3 separate regions of the Homo sapiens genome follow, and regions 2 and 3 are each reported to be linked to region 1. Evidence: microRNA targets listed by miRTarBase, many of them from high-throughput screens and not tested one by one. Region 1 holds a microRNA gene; each other region holds the end of a gene's coding sequence. Distances are between the middles of the regions.

The links. Region 1 holds the annotated microRNA hsa-miR-6733-5p (UGGGAAAGACAAACUCAGAGUU, at 1,592-1,613, shown strand). A microRNA usually pairs through its seed, bases 2 to 8, with sites in the 3' UTR of a target mRNA and lowers its output. Matches are read on the target gene's strand: a 7mer-m8 pairs with bases 2 to 8, a 7mer-A1 pairs with bases 2 to 7 and ends in A, and an 8mer does both.
Region 2: miRTarBase lists E2F2 as a target of hsa-miR-6733-5p. Seed matches in the 3' UTR shown: 7mer-A1 at 2,024-2,030, 7mer-m8 at 2,821-2,827 and 8mer at 3,706-3,713.
Region 3: miRTarBase lists LDHD as a target of hsa-miR-6733-5p. The part of its 3' UTR that is shown has no 7-base or 8-base seed match.

What each region holds. Positions count from the first base shown.
Region 1 is chr1:43,168,229-43,173,298 of GRCh38, reverse strand. MIR6733 (microRNA 6733) reads left to right here and starts at 1,587; the gene lies at 1,587-1,647. EBNA1BP2 (EBNA1 binding protein 2) reads left to right here and starts at 1,009. Exons shown (of 9, transcript NM_006824.3): 1 at 1,009-1,246; 2 at 1,330-1,413; 3 at 1,648-1,820; 4 at 2,420-2,543; 5 at 4,271-4,360. The coding sequence starts at 1,181. It overlaps CFAP57 (cilia and flagella associated protein 57), which reads right to left and starts at 969. Exons shown (of 23, transcript NM_001378189.1): 1 at 846-969; 2 at 389-564. The coding sequence starts at 545. RefSeq lists a silencer at 543-742 and enhancers at 853-902, 983-1,112, 662-1,297, 1,243-1,472, 1,298-1,934.
Region 2 is chr1:23,505,639-23,510,708 of GRCh38, reverse strand. It overlaps E2F2 (E2F transcription factor 2), which reads left to right. Exons shown (of 7, transcript NM_004091.4): 7 at 561-4,271. The coding sequence ends at 829. Among named protein-coding and RNA genes, the nearest start is that of E2F2, 23 kb to the left of the region's middle.
Region 3 is chr16:75,107,808-75,112,877 of GRCh38, forward strand. It overlaps LDHD (lactate dehydrogenase D), which reads right to left. Exons shown (of 11, transcript NM_194436.3): 9 at 5,027-5,070; 10 at 4,795-4,906; 11 at 4,057-4,714. The coding sequence ends at 4,549. ZNRF1 (zinc and ring finger 1) reads left to right here. Exons shown (of 5, transcript NM_032268.5): 5 at 1-3,187. Among named protein-coding and RNA genes, the nearest start is that of LDHD, 6.4 kb to the right of the region's middle. RefSeq lists enhancers at 1-28, 1,223-1,372, 1,403-1,482, 3,480-3,529.

The sequences.
Region 1 (5,070 bases):
CAGTGTCTTCATCATACTTGGATTCAAACGGTGATATAATGAAGGTGGTGTGCTCAGGAAAACTGTTAGACAACTCAAAAAGTGGCTCTGGTGATGACAAAGGCAGTGATATTGAAGACACCAAAAGAGGGGTTCTTAACATATTTTCATGAAATTACAGTGAAAAAAGTACTTTTAAATTAACATTTTATATGTGATTTTAACTACATATGCGTGACTGATTAATCTAGTTTCATAATACAAGTCGCCATTTATTTCCTCTACATTTATAATACTGCATATATATTCAAATTGGCCAAAATCTTTCTTTCCAATCATCATGCTGGGATTATGGGGTTATATGTGGCACATACCATTCCTGTATATGTCAGGATGGAAAAAGTTTTACCTGGAATGAATTTTTGCCATTTCTGATCCACATTGTACTTCACACAGTGATTTCCTGAAGGAAATATAATGATCTGTTCATCGAAGTAGAAGATATTGTTGGCCACGTGGGATCGAAGACCAAAAACATGCAGCGTCTGAGCTACCACGGCTGACATGATCTCCCGCCAAACAGTTCTGCTGAAGACCAAGGCAGCGCTTCAGAGTGGAGAGCACCGCCCCGCTCCGACCCCGCCCCCGGCCCGGACTCGCCCTCCCCGCCCTTTGCTCCTCCCCTTGTCTCTCCCCTTTCTCCTCCCCTTGTCCCTCCCCTTTCCCCTCCCCTTGTCCCTCCCCTTTCCCCTCCCCCGGGGTCCTCCTCCGCGCCACCCCACCCCCGCGGCTCCTTTTTCTGCCTTTTCCTTTGTACCCTCACTGCTACCAGCTCCTTCTGGCGACCCCCAGGTACCCCCTCCCACCTTTCGTTTCTCTCTGGGTCAGCAGACCACGCATGTATCCAGAGGCGCTACCTGTAGGGATCCTAAGCAACCCGGACACTTTCAAACGCCGTAGCGGTTCCTATAGCAACGACAAACCGGAAGTATGGTTTGCCGCCGGAAGCGGAAGTCCCAATCAAAAGTTGAGCAGTAGCTGTGAGTTGCTGGCGCTGGAGCGATTCGGTGGCACGTGGAGCCACGGCGTGGGAGTAGGGGGCTGAAGGCAGGCAGCAGCGGCCAGGGCCGCCCTCTGCTAGCCGCTTGGGTCTCGGGATACCCCGTTTCTTCCTGTAGGTGTGGGACGTGCGTGCGGCGAGATGGACACTCCCCCGCTCTCGGATTCGGAGTCGGAATCCGATGAATCCCTTGTCACAGACAGAGAGGTAGGTGTCAGCCGAGCTCGTGGGGCTGGGCGTGGGAGAGGGGGCCTTACACCCCTGGGAGTGACCGTGATTGTGTCCTGCAGTTGCAGGATGCGTTTTCCCGAGGGCTTCTGAAGCCAGGCCTCAATGTCGTGCTAGAGGGGCCGAAGAAGGCCGTGAACGACGTGGTGAGCGTGGGCACAGGGTCGGGGGTACTCGGACATGGGATGCGCTTCAGGCGCTGTTGGGCTTGGGAGACCGATTCTTGTCCCAGGAAAGATGCACCCTGCGCCTCGCCAAGAGGGTCAATTACCTGTCTGGGTATTGGGGATTAGCACTTTGTCCCTTCGCCTAACAGCCTGTGCTTGGGAAAGACAAACTCAGAGTTCCCTTCTTGTGAGCTCAGTGTCTGGATTTCCTAGAATGGCCTGAAGCAATGTTTGGCAGAATTCAAGCGGGATCTGGAATGGGTTGAAAGGCTCGATGTGACACTGGGTCCGGTACCGGAGATCGGTGGATCTGAGGCGCCAGCACCTCAGAACAAGGACCAGAAAGCTGTTGATCCAGAAGACGACTTCCAGCGAGAGATGAGTTTGTATGTTTGTTTTCAAATGTTGGAGAAGTTGAGGATCCTTGTGCAGGAGAGTGGGAAAGAGGGGAAATTAGTAAGTCTGCACTCAGAATAAGCCTAGGAGTAGAGAGAGCGGCTTCTTTTGACTAAGAATAGCTAGGAGATTCTTCCTGTTTGAGAGAAGAGCTCTTTGGTCCACGGTCACGATCCAAAATCCACTTTATGGGCTAATTTGAAATATTCATGTTAAAACTTTTTGTGCATGCTTCAGTTATTAGGAAAACAAACAAACAAACATTGCTTATGGGATGTTCTTGTGTGGAATTGCTTTAGTAATTACATAAGAATCCATAATCGACATTCGTTTGTGTTAATGGGTACCTTTAGAGTAGTCATTCTCTTAAACTATTTTTAGCAACACCCCTCCCCTTTTTAAAAACTAGTATACGGCTACATTTCTTTTAGATACTAAATCAGTGAGACAGTTTTTGTTTGTTTGTTCTTGCTAATGGAGGTCAGATTTTGAGAGTCCTTCTGAGCTTGGATAACTCATGATTGGCGGTGAAAAGGAACGTAAGGCCTCCTCCTTCACCTCATTACACATTTTGTCCTACGATTCTCAGCTATCGCCAAGCCCAGGCCGCAGTGCTTGCAGTCTTACCCCGCCTCCATCAGCTCAAAGTCCCTACGAAGCGACCCACTGATTATTTTGCGGAAATGGCCAAATCTGATCTGCAGATGCAGAAGGTAAGAAATAGAAGTTTTCCTCTGGAAAGTCAAAACTTTGTACTTAAGCATATTCAGCTGGCTTAGAAAGATAGCTATGAGCCCAATAACGGGGAGCCAGTTGTCAGAGGACAATTATTACCTCTTCCATAGATTGGCTACTTCAGAGTCATGCCAGTTACCACCAATTAGATGCATATAAAAATGACATTTTTTCTAAAATCAGCAATTAAGGAGAGGAACAGTGCTGTGTGAAGTGTGGTCCCCGAGGTGAAGATGGCCCAGTGCATTTCCTAGCTGGCATGGTCATGACATGGTGTGCAGAGAGGACAGCATTCTTGTGCCCTTGCCACTGTCAGTGCTAGAACTTGTAGACAATTACTTTTCTCTGGGCCTCAGTTTTCTCCTCTGTAAAATGAGGGATTCTTAGATGGTTCAGATATAGTACAATTTAGAGTTGGGTAGAACTTGGACCTCATTTAACTTTGGAAGAAGGGATTGCCAGCATGTAATCCAACATACATTCAGCCCTCCATAGCCATGGGTTCAGCATCTGTGGATTCAACCAACCTTGGATCAAAAATATTGGGGAAAAAAATTTGAAAATATTGCAAAAGGAAAACTGAATTTTCCGTGTGCCGAGAACTACATTGAATCCATGAGAATGAGGTGATGCATAGCATTGTATTCGGTATTATAAGTAATCTAGAGACTATTTAAAGAAGCGGTCTGGCACTAGAGACTAGTTTCGTGGATGACAATTTTTTCATGAACTTGGGGAGGGGATAGTTTTGGGATGAAACCGTTCCATCTCAGATCATCAGGCATTAGATTCTCATAAGGAGCAGGCAACCTAGATCCTTTGCATGCATAGTTCCATGCATAGTTCACAGTAGAGTTCGCACTCCTATGAGAATTTAACGCCACCACCAATCTGACAGGAGGTGGAGCTCAGGTGGTAATGCTTGCTTGCCTGTCACTCACTTTCTGCTGTGCGGCCTGGTTCCTAACAGGCCACAGATTCATAGTGGGTTCGTAGCGGTCTGTGGCCTGGGAGTTGAGGTCCTCTGACTTTAAAGGATACTGGAGGCGAGTGTAGGTTATATGCAAATGCTGCACCATTTTTATATAAAGGACTTGAGCATCTGTGGATTTTGATATCTGTAGTGGGTCCTAGAACTAATCCTCTATGGATACTGAGGGATAAGTATATTTAAATAGTACCCTGGGGTCTCAAGCTGGATTTTAGGGAGCTTTTGTCGTGGTAGTAGTTCACCTTCTTACTGTGAACTCTGTACAAATTCTCACTGACAACTTCTCATCCTTTAACTAAAATGTGTATGTTTGACTGAAAAGGCTAGGCACCTGGTATCTGCCTGGGTTTTTATTGTGTATGTGGTATACTAGAAAAGGACACTGAGGCCGCATACTGGTTTCCAGCCTCAGTCTACTGACAGTAGAAATGGGGAGAAGTTTGTCTTCTTTCCTGGGCTACAAATAGGCAGTTTGTATAATGAAACAGACAGCACACTGGGAGCGGGAAGGTGACTTTCAATCTCTGGCTTCACTCTGGCACTTTTGGTAAAGTGCTCAGCCTGTGGGCCCCATTGTCCTCAGGGGTTGGAACTGATGATTTATAAGTTCCGCAGTTTAAAGAACAGGGAATATCTGTTCCCTGCTCTAGCGAATCCTAAGTAGTGGTCATTCCAGATTCAAATGACATGAACTGACAGCATTTTGTGTTGTAGATTCGACAGAAGCTGCAGACTAAACAGGCTGCCATGGAGAGGTCTGAAAAAGCTAAGCAACTGCGAGCACTTAGGAAATACGGGAAGAAGGTGAGAAGAAAAGTGTGCAGGGAACAGGAAGAGGCGGAGTGTGTGTTAGATGAGATTGCCGTGGTCTGACTTGGTCCCCTGAACTGAACGGAACTGTGTGTTGATCATGTATTTACCGTCTCTCAGTGTATGTGCTGGTATTCATGAGCACAATCTTGCCTGGACATGAGTGGTTCCCCAGGAGTAGTATGGTGACTGCAGGTGAGCCAATCACCTCTCTGGGCGTTAGTTTTCACATCTGTACACTGGGTCCAGATGAGTGGTTTCCAAACCTGACCTTATAGCAAAATCACCAGGGGAAATTTTTCAAAACAGAATTCTAGACTTCAGAATCCCCAGGAATCTGTGCCTGTTTTCCCCTCTTCCCCAAAAGCTTTCCAGGTGATTCTGAAATGCATCCTGGTTTGGGATTCACTGATCTATGTGATAATCACGTACCTGAAGAAATTATCATAATGATTGTCATCCAATCTGAAAGATTGCCTGCGTGTTTGAACTATGAATGTCTGAGTTCTAATGTAACACCAGATCAGGCATACCCTAAAACTTTTCTTGGTTTTCCTTTTTTATTTCATGGTCATCTAAGAAAGAAGATGACAGATTTTAAAGTTAGGATTGTGGGAAGAAATGAATGTGAGGAAGATTGGTGTGGGTGTTAAGACTTCGTCAACATTTGGACATAAGCACTTGTGATCTGGGCTGCAGAACTC
Region 2 (5,070 bases), 20 Mb from region 1:
GTATTTGTTTTTTTGTGATTGGCTTATTTCACATAGTTTAATGTCCTCAGGGTTCATCTATGTTGTAGCATGTGTCAGAATTTCTTTCCTTTTTGGCCGGGCACAGTGGCTCAGGCCTGTAATCCCAACACTTTGGAAGGCCGATCACTTGAGGTCAGGAGTTCGAGACCAGCCTGGCCAACATGGTGAAACCCCATCTCTACTAAAAATACACAAATTAGCTGGGTGTGGTGGTGCATGCCTGTAGTCCAGCTACTCGGGAGGCTCAGGTGGGAGAATCGCTTGAACCTGGGAGGCAGAGGTTGCAGTGAACCAAGATCACAACACTGCACTCTAGCCTGGGTGATAGAGTGAGACCCGGTCTCAAAAAAATAAAAAATACATGAAAAGTTGTAGGGTTGGGTGTAGACTCTGGAAGGTGGATTTTGAGAGCACGACAGTCCACCCAGGCTAAGGAGAGAGAAGAAGGGTGCAGTCATCCAGAGAACCGGAAGTCTGTCCTCGCGTGCTGAGGAGTTGGATGCTAGGGCCAGGCGTAACCTTTGTCTGTTTGTCTCCAGTGCCAGCACCAGCGCCAACCCCCCAGCAGGCCCCACCGCCTCCATCCCTGGTCCCCTTGGAGGCTACTGACAGCCTGCTGGAGCTGCCGCACCCACTCCTGCAGCAGACTGAGGACCAGTTCCTGTCCCCGACCCTGGCGTGCAGCTCCCCTCTGATCAGCTTCTCCCCATCCTTGGACCAGGACGACTACCTGTGGGGCTTGGAGGCGGGTGAGGGCATCAGCGATCTCTTCGACTCCTACGACCTTGGGGACCTGTTGATTAATTGAGTGGCCCTGCCTGCCCCCAGCAGCCTGCCCCCGACTCTACCTCCTCACAGACAGGCTGACAGCCCCTCTGCCTGCACAGGGACATTGGACACTAGGTGCTGCCCTCAGGGCATGGGGTCTCCTCGCCTTTCCTGCCCCAGCCGGCAGAAGCTGTGTGGGGAGATATGAATGGTACGGGTGAGGAGTGGATAAGGGGTGGTCCTCACCTTCCTAATGGAAGCTGGGCCTAGGGAGGCCCATCCAGTCTTCTGACTTCTGACCTCTCACAAGAAGGCTGCAGGTGAGGTGGCCAAGTCCAGGGAAAGGCCCTGCTACCTCCTTTTGAGGGGTAATTAGGACCCTCGACGTACCAAGAAGCACATAATGCCTTTGTATTTATTTCAGGTTGAGTTGTTTGTTTGTCCTCCCTGAGTTTTAGCAGGGAGGTTGTTCTAGTTTTTAGTGAGACCTCTGCAGACAGGCCCATCACTGTCCATGTTCCAGGGCAGGTCTGGGTTTCCAAGGGAGGGGCCCAGGCTACATCCTTGGTTTCCCCACTGTGGTGGGGGCTGGGACTCTGAGGGGCTGTCCAGTCTGCTAGAATGCTAATTGCACTTAGGCCTCATGGTTCTAGTAAACGGCAGCTGTGGGCCCTTTTGCCTCTTCCCCTGTTCTTGGCCTCACATCTCCAGCTGAGCTGCCGGTCTTGGCTTCCTGGTCGCCTCTGTCCCAGAGATGGTCCCAGGGAGCCATCCTAGGGCAGGTAGCACTGAGGCTCCTGTGGAAACAGGAGCCACCTGCTCAGGAGACCCCTTTCCTGAGGAAGTCCTTACCTCTCCCCTTGAGATGTAAAAATGGTCCAGCAGAGACAAGCTCCCGTGGAAAACAGACAGGAGCATGGGGGCAGCTGTCATGGCTGTGGCGGGCACTTTTCCTCAGAGTTTCTGCCTTGCGCTGGTCCAGGAGCCATTTTGCACCAAGGACTTGGTAGGCAGAGGCAGCCCCACTGTAAAGAAGGGTCAGATTAAAACAAAAAACTGCCAAAAGCATCCCCTCTGCCCCCCATGTGGCACTGGCATCATTCTCTGCTTCCCTGGGAGGAATTTTTTCACCATGTTATTGAAGGGGATGGTTCATTAAGGACTCCACCCCTCAGAGCTCACTCAGACCCCAAGGACAGAGGTGACTGGGGCTTGGTGACTTGTTCACTCCTTTTTTCCCAGGTATACTGAAGGGGTGACAGAGAGAGGTCTTCATGGCAGACCAGGCCTTCACAGCTAATGGGGAGAGGAACTCATGTTACCTCTGCAGGCCTGGGGTCCTGAGGGGGTCTTTTGGCTTCAGCCTGTTCCCCCAGAGGCTTGATCATCCCACATTGTCCCTTCAGCTCAGCTGCTCTTCTCCCCCACCCACCCTGGGATGTGGGTGCTCTGGGCTGAACCAAGGCTATGACTTCTGGAGAGAGGCTCAGGGGTTGGTCTGAGAGGCCTGCCATCCACCCCTCAGGGAGCTAGGTTTTCTCAGAGGCTCAGCTGGACAGCACTTTTTAGAAAAGTTTGTAGCATTAAGCTGGTTTAAAATATGAAGTTGGTTTTGTTGGATGGCTCCTGAGCTGACTGACTGATGTCTGAAGTTTGAGACGAGGGATTATTTCAGGGTGGGGCCCAATGTGATCTAATGCCCAGCTGGGGACAATTGTGCCTCATCATTTGCTCAAATTCCTGGGCCCCCAAGTTAGCCCCCTCCCAGGAGTGGTCAGCGGGTCACAGCTGCCCCCACTCTATAAGCAGGGCTAATTGTGTACCCTTTGCAGAAATGCTTTTGGTCTCCTACCCAAATACTCACAAGGGTCTTATCAGACGCCCGTCTTAAAGTCCAGCATGCTCAGGGACCCTGTGTAGGATCTCGTTTGTGGTGAGTGGGCTGCTCTGAGGTCTCCACTGGGCTGCCATTTAGCCATGTGCCATCTCTGAAGTCAGAGGTGTTTGACTCCCATTCCTTGGGCTCTGGAGCTTTCCCCAAGAATTACATCAGAGAAAAGGAAGAAGGGGCCTGCAGGACCCATTGGGAATGAGTTTAATACTGAAGTCTGGAATGTAAGCTCATGCCCTAGAGGCCTCTCCATATGGCTGGTCAGGGGAGCTGCCTTCAGGCTTGTGCCCCGTGTGCTCAGCAGCTGCCTCTGTCCCCCTCTACTGTCCCTTTCACACCTTGCCTGGCCAAGGGGCTAGACCTCCCAGGCTAAGCCTCAGATTCAGTGCAGGACACAAGCTCATGCCCCCGTCTTGCCAGTGACACTTGAAGCCTCCCGACTTCCACAGAGTGCTTCAGGACACATTTTGAGTGGTATTTTCTTTTCTTTTTTTCTTCTTTTTTTTTTTTTTTGAGATGGAGTCTCGCTCTGTTGCCCAGGCTGGAGTGCAGTGGCCTGATCTCGGCTCACTGCAACCTCTGCCTCCCAGGTTCAAGCGATTCTTCTGCCTCAGCCTCCAGAGTAGCTGGGACTATAGACATGCACCACCACGCCCGGCTAATTTTGTATTTTTGGTCGAGACGGGGTTTTGCCATGTTAGTCAGGCTGGTCTTGAACTCCTGACCTCAAGTGATCCACCACCTCGGCCTCCCAAAGTGTTGAGATGACAGGCACGAGCCACCAGGCCCAGCCTGAGTGGTATTTTCTTTAGGGACCAGGTAGACTTTAAAACGAGGGTAAGAGAAAAGCCAGTGTCTTTCTGAGGTAAATAATTTCTGCCAGGAAACTTCCCAGCCCCACCAGCAGCCCCCCTAAAAAAATCACTCGTGTCCCCAGGGACTTCTAAAGCTTGGGGCTCCAGGAAATCATCCAGTAGAGTTGGAGATTCAGAGATTTCTTGAAGCCAGGGACATGCTCCTAACTCCTTTCCCATTAAAGGTGTTAGAATAGACCAGAGGGTGTCCCTTTTCCACAGTAATGGGATCGGCTGGTGTGCCTTCAGGGAGGAAGAGGGAGGTGGTCAAGCTTGAAAAACTGGCTTTAGGATGGTTCTGACTTTGTTCTCCCTCCCCAAGTGTTCTCAACCTCCATTCTGCAGTGTTCAGAGTTTTAGGGAAAGGGTTTGGGTGCCCCAGCATCCAGGTGTTGTGTGGCTTAGCGCATGTGAAGTGAAAACCTTCTGGGGTTGTTTGGAAGCAGCTTTCTGGTTCTTGTGATTGTATCCTGAGGTCCCAGAACCCTATTCTCCCACGAGGATCCTCAGTGACCATGGTGGCCACACGCCTGGCCAGCCTGCTGGCTCCTGGGTGAGCTGAAGAACCTTGCCTGTGGCACTTTTCGAGGGTGAGCTGGAACCGAGAGAACATGGTCCCCGTGCTGGGACTCATGCGGGTCATTTCCTGCCGGCCTGGTTTCGCCTGGTCGTGTCTTTATGAGCACCATGTAAGCCTCCTTGTATTGAGATAATTGGGCATTAAACATTAAACTGCAGCTCTGGGCATCTTGTCTTTGTCGTGCTTTCTGAAGCTCATTACCAACTGTGGATCTGGTCCCCGCAGGCTGGGTGTTGGGGGCTGTCCTGGCCAATGCTGGGGGCACATGATTGCCCAGTGGATTTCCCTCCAAGATACAGTCTCTTATCACCATGCCTGCAATCTCACCATTAAGGCACTGAAAAGTTCGCAGCACCCAGATCTAAAATGTGATCAGCCCTGACTCTGTCTCCCCCATCTATTTCCACAGCTTCCTGAAAGGTCTTGCTGCCCACACTCTCCCTCCCACCCTCTACATCAGTGGGTCCAACTGTAGTCCTCAGACCAGCAGCAGCAGTATCACCTGGAAATGTGAGACATGCATATTCAAGACCATGCCTCACGCTGGGTGCGGTGGATCACTTGAAGTTAGGAGTTCAAGACCAGTCTGGCCAGCATGGTGAAACCCCATCTCTGCTAAAAATATAAAAAAATTAGCCGGGCTTGGTGGCGGGTGCCTGTAATCCAAGCTACTGAAGAGGCTGAGGCAGGAGAATCGCTTGAACCCAGGAGGCAGAGGATGCAGTGAGATCACACCACTGCACTCCAGCCTGGGCTACATAGTGAGACTCTGCAAAAAAAAAGGCCAGGTGCAGTGGCTCACGCCTGTAATCCCAACACTTCGAGAGTCCAAGGCGGGCGGATCGCAAGGTCAGGAGATTGAGATCATCCTGGCTAACACAGTGAAACCCCGTCTCTACTAAAAAAATAAAATAAATTAGCGGGCATGGTTGCAGGCGCCTGTAACTCCAGCTACT
Region 3 (5,070 bases), not on the chromosome of region 1:
ACAGGGCACCCCTTCTGCACTGACTTCCAGATCATGGTTCTCCCTTCCTCCCTGAGGACACCAAATTGGATGAGAGCAAGTTTGAGAGAAGAATGAATCAACTGCTATCCTTCCCCTCACCCCTCAGCCCAGGAGGGAAAGGGCATTTTCTTTTTCATCTTTGAAAGGCATTGTGGGTCTGTCTTTAAAGTGTTTACAAAAAAAAATTATATAAAAAAAAAGTCTAGTGTCGACTGGTGTTTTCCCTCGTGATGTTTACAGCTTGCTGTTTGCTGCCCAGCCATAACCCACTCAGTGACAGACGAACACAGCTAAGGCCTCGCTGCCAGCCTTCTGACGGCGGGCGAGCACACGGTCTCTTCCCCTGCCCCAACTGGCCCTCTCCACCACCAACTTCTCTACTTTGGGTTTGTTTGGTTTTTTCCCTCTATTTTTCTGGCTGGTTTTTTGCTCTTTTCTCCCCTTGAGACCCTAATATCTTGACTTCATTGCCAAAAAACAACCCATTGAGAACTTTCTTCCTACTGATCCCATCTCTTTTCCCTTCTTTCCTCCTGGTTCCGGTCAGTTCAGAGGATTTAACAATCACAAGTGTCCTGCAAAAATGCCTGAACATTATTCTTAGGCCCTCGTGGATTTTTTTTTTCAGAAAACTTAAACAAAAAAAGACTTACTAAGAAATATGTACAGCTACCCCTGTTTTCAGGCACTATGTTTGAGAACATTTTAGCCATTGATGTTCACACGTGGCATCAGCCCATGCAAGATAGGTTTCTGTATTTATATATTAAAATACAAAAAAAAACTTATAAAATGTTTAAAAAAATGTTCAAAGCTTGGGAGAAAAGCTTTCTTCATTAGTCAAGGTGTTTTGATATGGTATTAAAATGTCTAATAAAAGATGGCACTGCGTGATTTTATTTTAATGAAGTGTTATACAATCAAGAAATGGGGGCAAGGGCCTGCCCCCCACTCCCTCACCTACCTCCTTAGCATTCCTTCAGGCTGCTACTCGGGGCTCCAGGTGTGTGAATTGGTCCTCAGATAGTCAGGCCTGGGTGGAGGGAGTGGCAAGTCAGGCGTGCCTCCTACAAGCTTCCTAACCTCTTAAGCATCATGGAACCAGTCAGCCCTCTGTGGAGTCATTGTGCTGGACCTCTGAAAAGATCTGCAGGGGCCAAGATGTTGCAGCCACCGGAGGCTGCAAGGATGTGGGTTCTTCCAGGTGTGGGCCCAGCCCCCCTCCTTCCAGCCTTTGCTCCCCATCCCACGTTCCACTCGCCCTGCCTGTTGTTCAGTTTGCGTCTCAGTGCTGACTCACGGGCATGCTTCATTGAGGCCCAGGAAGAGGCCCTGGTTTGGGGCTGTGCCAGCTCAGAGCCCTTGAACCAGAACCAACTGCTCAGGCTCACAAAAGTTGGCAAAATGCGGGCTGGGCAGGCAGCTCGGGGCAGGGAGCAGCAGTGCAGGCCTGGCCTGTGTCCCCGTGCCCAGCGGGCTCCCGGAGCAGCATTCCAGAGCCTCCTGCAGAGCCAGCGAAGGAAAGCTCTAGAGGGAGACGACTCCACCGCCTCTCTGCTCTGACCCTTCTCAGGCCCGCCTGATGTGCTGGACCATCCCCCTGCTGCCACGGCCCCTGGCTCCGCAGTCACCCTCCATCAGATGCTTCCAGAAGCACCTACTCTGTGCAAGGGCATTCACAACAGGCCAGTGGGCAAACGTGAGCCAGGGCCAGCGGAGAAACACTAAAGAAGACTCGGTGGTTCAGAGCCTGGGTCTCAGCGCGGGACCCGTCTGGGGTGAAGACCTTGGGGCTGTTGTGAGTCGGTGGCAGGAACGTGGGCTCTAGACTGTGCATTCAGGCTCTCCTACTTGGCAGAATGATCTTGGGGAAACGACTTCATCTGAACTTCAGATATTTCACATGTGAAGCGGGGACAAAACCATGCAGCTCAGAGGTCCCTGTGGGGGCTGGGGGAGCTGCCCTGCAGGTCTTGGCACATGCACAGCAGGCTCCCCATAGCTTTGTCACCACAAAGGGCACTGTTCTATTCACAGCACCTCCTGCTTCTGCCTGGCAACTGTGTCTCCCTGTGCTATATTTAATTCCACCAGCAAAGCTGGCGAGGCAGGGCCCAGCCCTGAAGGAGATCTCCTTGCCTGACCCCTGGACCTGGAAATGGAGGCTTCATGTGCCCGCCTTGGCGGCTTAAGCCTGCTGCTTTGGCAGTGCCATGGGTGAGCCGAGCAGCTGTGAGGTGGGTGGGGCAGGGCTGTAGCCCACGCCGGGTGCTATTCCAGGCTCTAGGGGCTGGTGCTCATCCCCACCCCCAGCGACTTCCGTCCTACCTGGCATGCTGCAGCCCTCTGCCGGCTGTGGTGTCCTCTGAATTTGGACCCAGGTTGCCTGCTCTTGTTGTGGGGGTGGGATTGGGGCTGTCTGTGTTTCCCAGGTGGAGCTCATGTTTGTGATCCTCTATCTGGACAGCTCTCCAGAATCCTGTGTTGCCCCTGTTCTGCCTTTCTGGGATGGGAGAGAAGGTGAGGGAGCCGGCGAGCAGGTTCTACCCTCTCTGCTAAGGGCCTAGCACACTTTGATGAGGTTCCTGGACGTGAGACCCTCACAAAGACCAACCATTCCTCTAATAGCCATTTAACGGTACTGCAGTTCATGGGAAAATGTCCTCATTCTTAGGAGATAGATGCTGGATTATATAGGTGAATGCCTTCAAGAAATGTGTAATTTAATTCCAAATAGTTCCCCCCAAAATACACAAAGCAAATAAGGCCAAAATGTTCATTGTTGAATCTGCAGTGGCTGGTATTTCAGTGAACAGTGTACTTGTTCTTTCAACTTTTCTGTATGTTTGGAATTTTTCTTAATAAAAGATTGTGGGAAATGGTCATTTGCTGAGCGCCTCCTAGTTGCCAGGCACTGGAGGGCGCATCAAAGAAGAGTCCTACCCAGGAGGGAGAGCGCAGCTGCTGCAGGATTCTCGCCTGGAAGAGTGGGTGGCTGGCTGGCTGGCTGGAAGGGGAGGGGCGAGAGGGCTGTCTCGGTGATGAGCACACGCGTGCTGGGGTGGTTTGGGGAGAGGGCTGAGATTTGTCACCAGTGAGCCCTTGGCACGGTCTCTGCTCCCCACCAGGGCAGCACGGGACAGAAACGTCACGGAGGAGTAGCCTCCAGGCTCAGGTTGGTGTAACTGCTGTCGGCTGGAGCCCAGTATTAGCACGGAGGAGGGGTTCCAAGAACTGAAGTTGGACTGGGGCGTCTCAGCGCAGCTGCCTCTGCCTAAGGCCTAGCAGCCTGCCTGAGCACTGACAGCTGATGGGAGGAGGAGAGGGGCGGAGGCCAGGGAGGGCGTGGGGTGTGACATGCCTCTTTCCAAAAGGGACCGAAGGCTAGAGGGGCAAGGAAGATGAGACAGCACTGCAGGTTCCTGGGACCTGCAGGGGATGGAGGACTAGCTTGGCTTCCAGGCTGCCAGGACTTACCTGACCCTAGGAGGAGGTTTGCCCAGGGCTGAGTGCCGCAGGCCCTGGGCAGAGGAGTCGTGAGCTGCAGATGCCGCGTGGTATCTGAGCTTCATGATTTCGGGCGCCCTCCTGTGGGCTTAGGGGGGAACAACTGCCAAGGTCTCAAGACGGGCTCCGGCCCAAGACAGGGGCAGGCCCTCGGGTGGACAGACCTTGAGGGCAAAACAGCTGGTGGTACGATACATCACCCCATGAAGAGGTGGGTGCAAAAATAGTCTCATCTCTGTTTCTAGAGACGTGGCAGCTGCTGAGGAACACATTCAGTGTGTTCAGAGGCCCGGTTCAGGCCCAGTTGGGGAGCCCATCCTGAGTGACATGTGCCGTGGGCAGGTCCTCAGCTCTGAGGCGGAGTAGCTGGGACAGGGACCTGGGTTCCTTTCCGAACCCTGAGCACCAACCTCCTCCCCAGGCTATAAGAAGTCAGAGGACAGCCCCAAAACAAAGGGGTCACTGACCAAAGGACAGAGACCCTGGAGGGGGAGGGGAGGAAGTGCTGCCTGCTGACTTCCAGGTAGCTGTAGGTGGGTTTCAGGTTTATTACAGATTTATTGGGGGAGGCCCCAAGGAGAAGACCTATCATCATGTCACGGGAGCTCACGTTCCATACCAGGAAAGGAGTGTTCCTGTCACCAGGTGAAGGGGGAAGGGTCCTGGGACCCCGGCAGTGGGAGGCCTCGGGGAGGGGTGTCATCAGAGTCTTGAATGGACCCAGACGCTCTCTTCCCGCCAGGACAGGATGCGTAGGAGCAGAGAGGAAGCAGCTTTGCTGGGAACCACCCTGGGTCGTTTACTGAACCAAAGGCTCCTGGGGCCAGCCAGAGGGCCAGGGAGGTAACACGGTGCTCAGGCTTCTCTCTGGGCCCTCTGGCCTTGGGCCCAGATACAGTGGGCTCGCTGGCAGGAAGACTGCCTCAGCATCTATTTCCTTGCAGGGGCCGTGGCATGAAGAAAAGTTCCAGAACCGGCTCCGTAGTCAGGGAACTTGTGGGCTAAGTGCTCAGACCCCCTTCACAGCACTTTGCCTGGATTCATGAGGCCTTGGGGGTCTAGCACGGCCTTGAGCTGCCGCATGGTCTCCACGCCCACGGCGCCCACCTCCTCCTGCAGCAGCTGCCGCTTGCCCATTCCGATGCCATGCTCCCCCGTGCACGTTCCGTGGAGAGCCAGTGCCCGCCTGGGGGCAGGAAGGAGACATCCTCAGGGGGCTCCCTTTCCTCTGCCCTCAGCTCTTCCCCTCCCTGGCTTTGCTCCTACCTGCCCAGCTGTTCTGCAAAAGCCTTGACCCTGCCCAGTTCCTCGGCGTCATCAGGGTTGACCAGCAGGATGCAGTGGAAGTTGCCGTCACCCACATGCCCGACAATGCTTCCTGGGGGCCCAGAGGACAGAACTATTCTCCAGCCCAGTCCTCCTCTTGCCTCCTGCTGCCCCAGGCTCTGATCAGCCCTGACACCTCCCCACCTCTCCCCAGCAGCAGGGTGGGCAGAACCTGTGAGTCCTGAGGCATTCAGATCCTCCTTGGTCTGCACCACG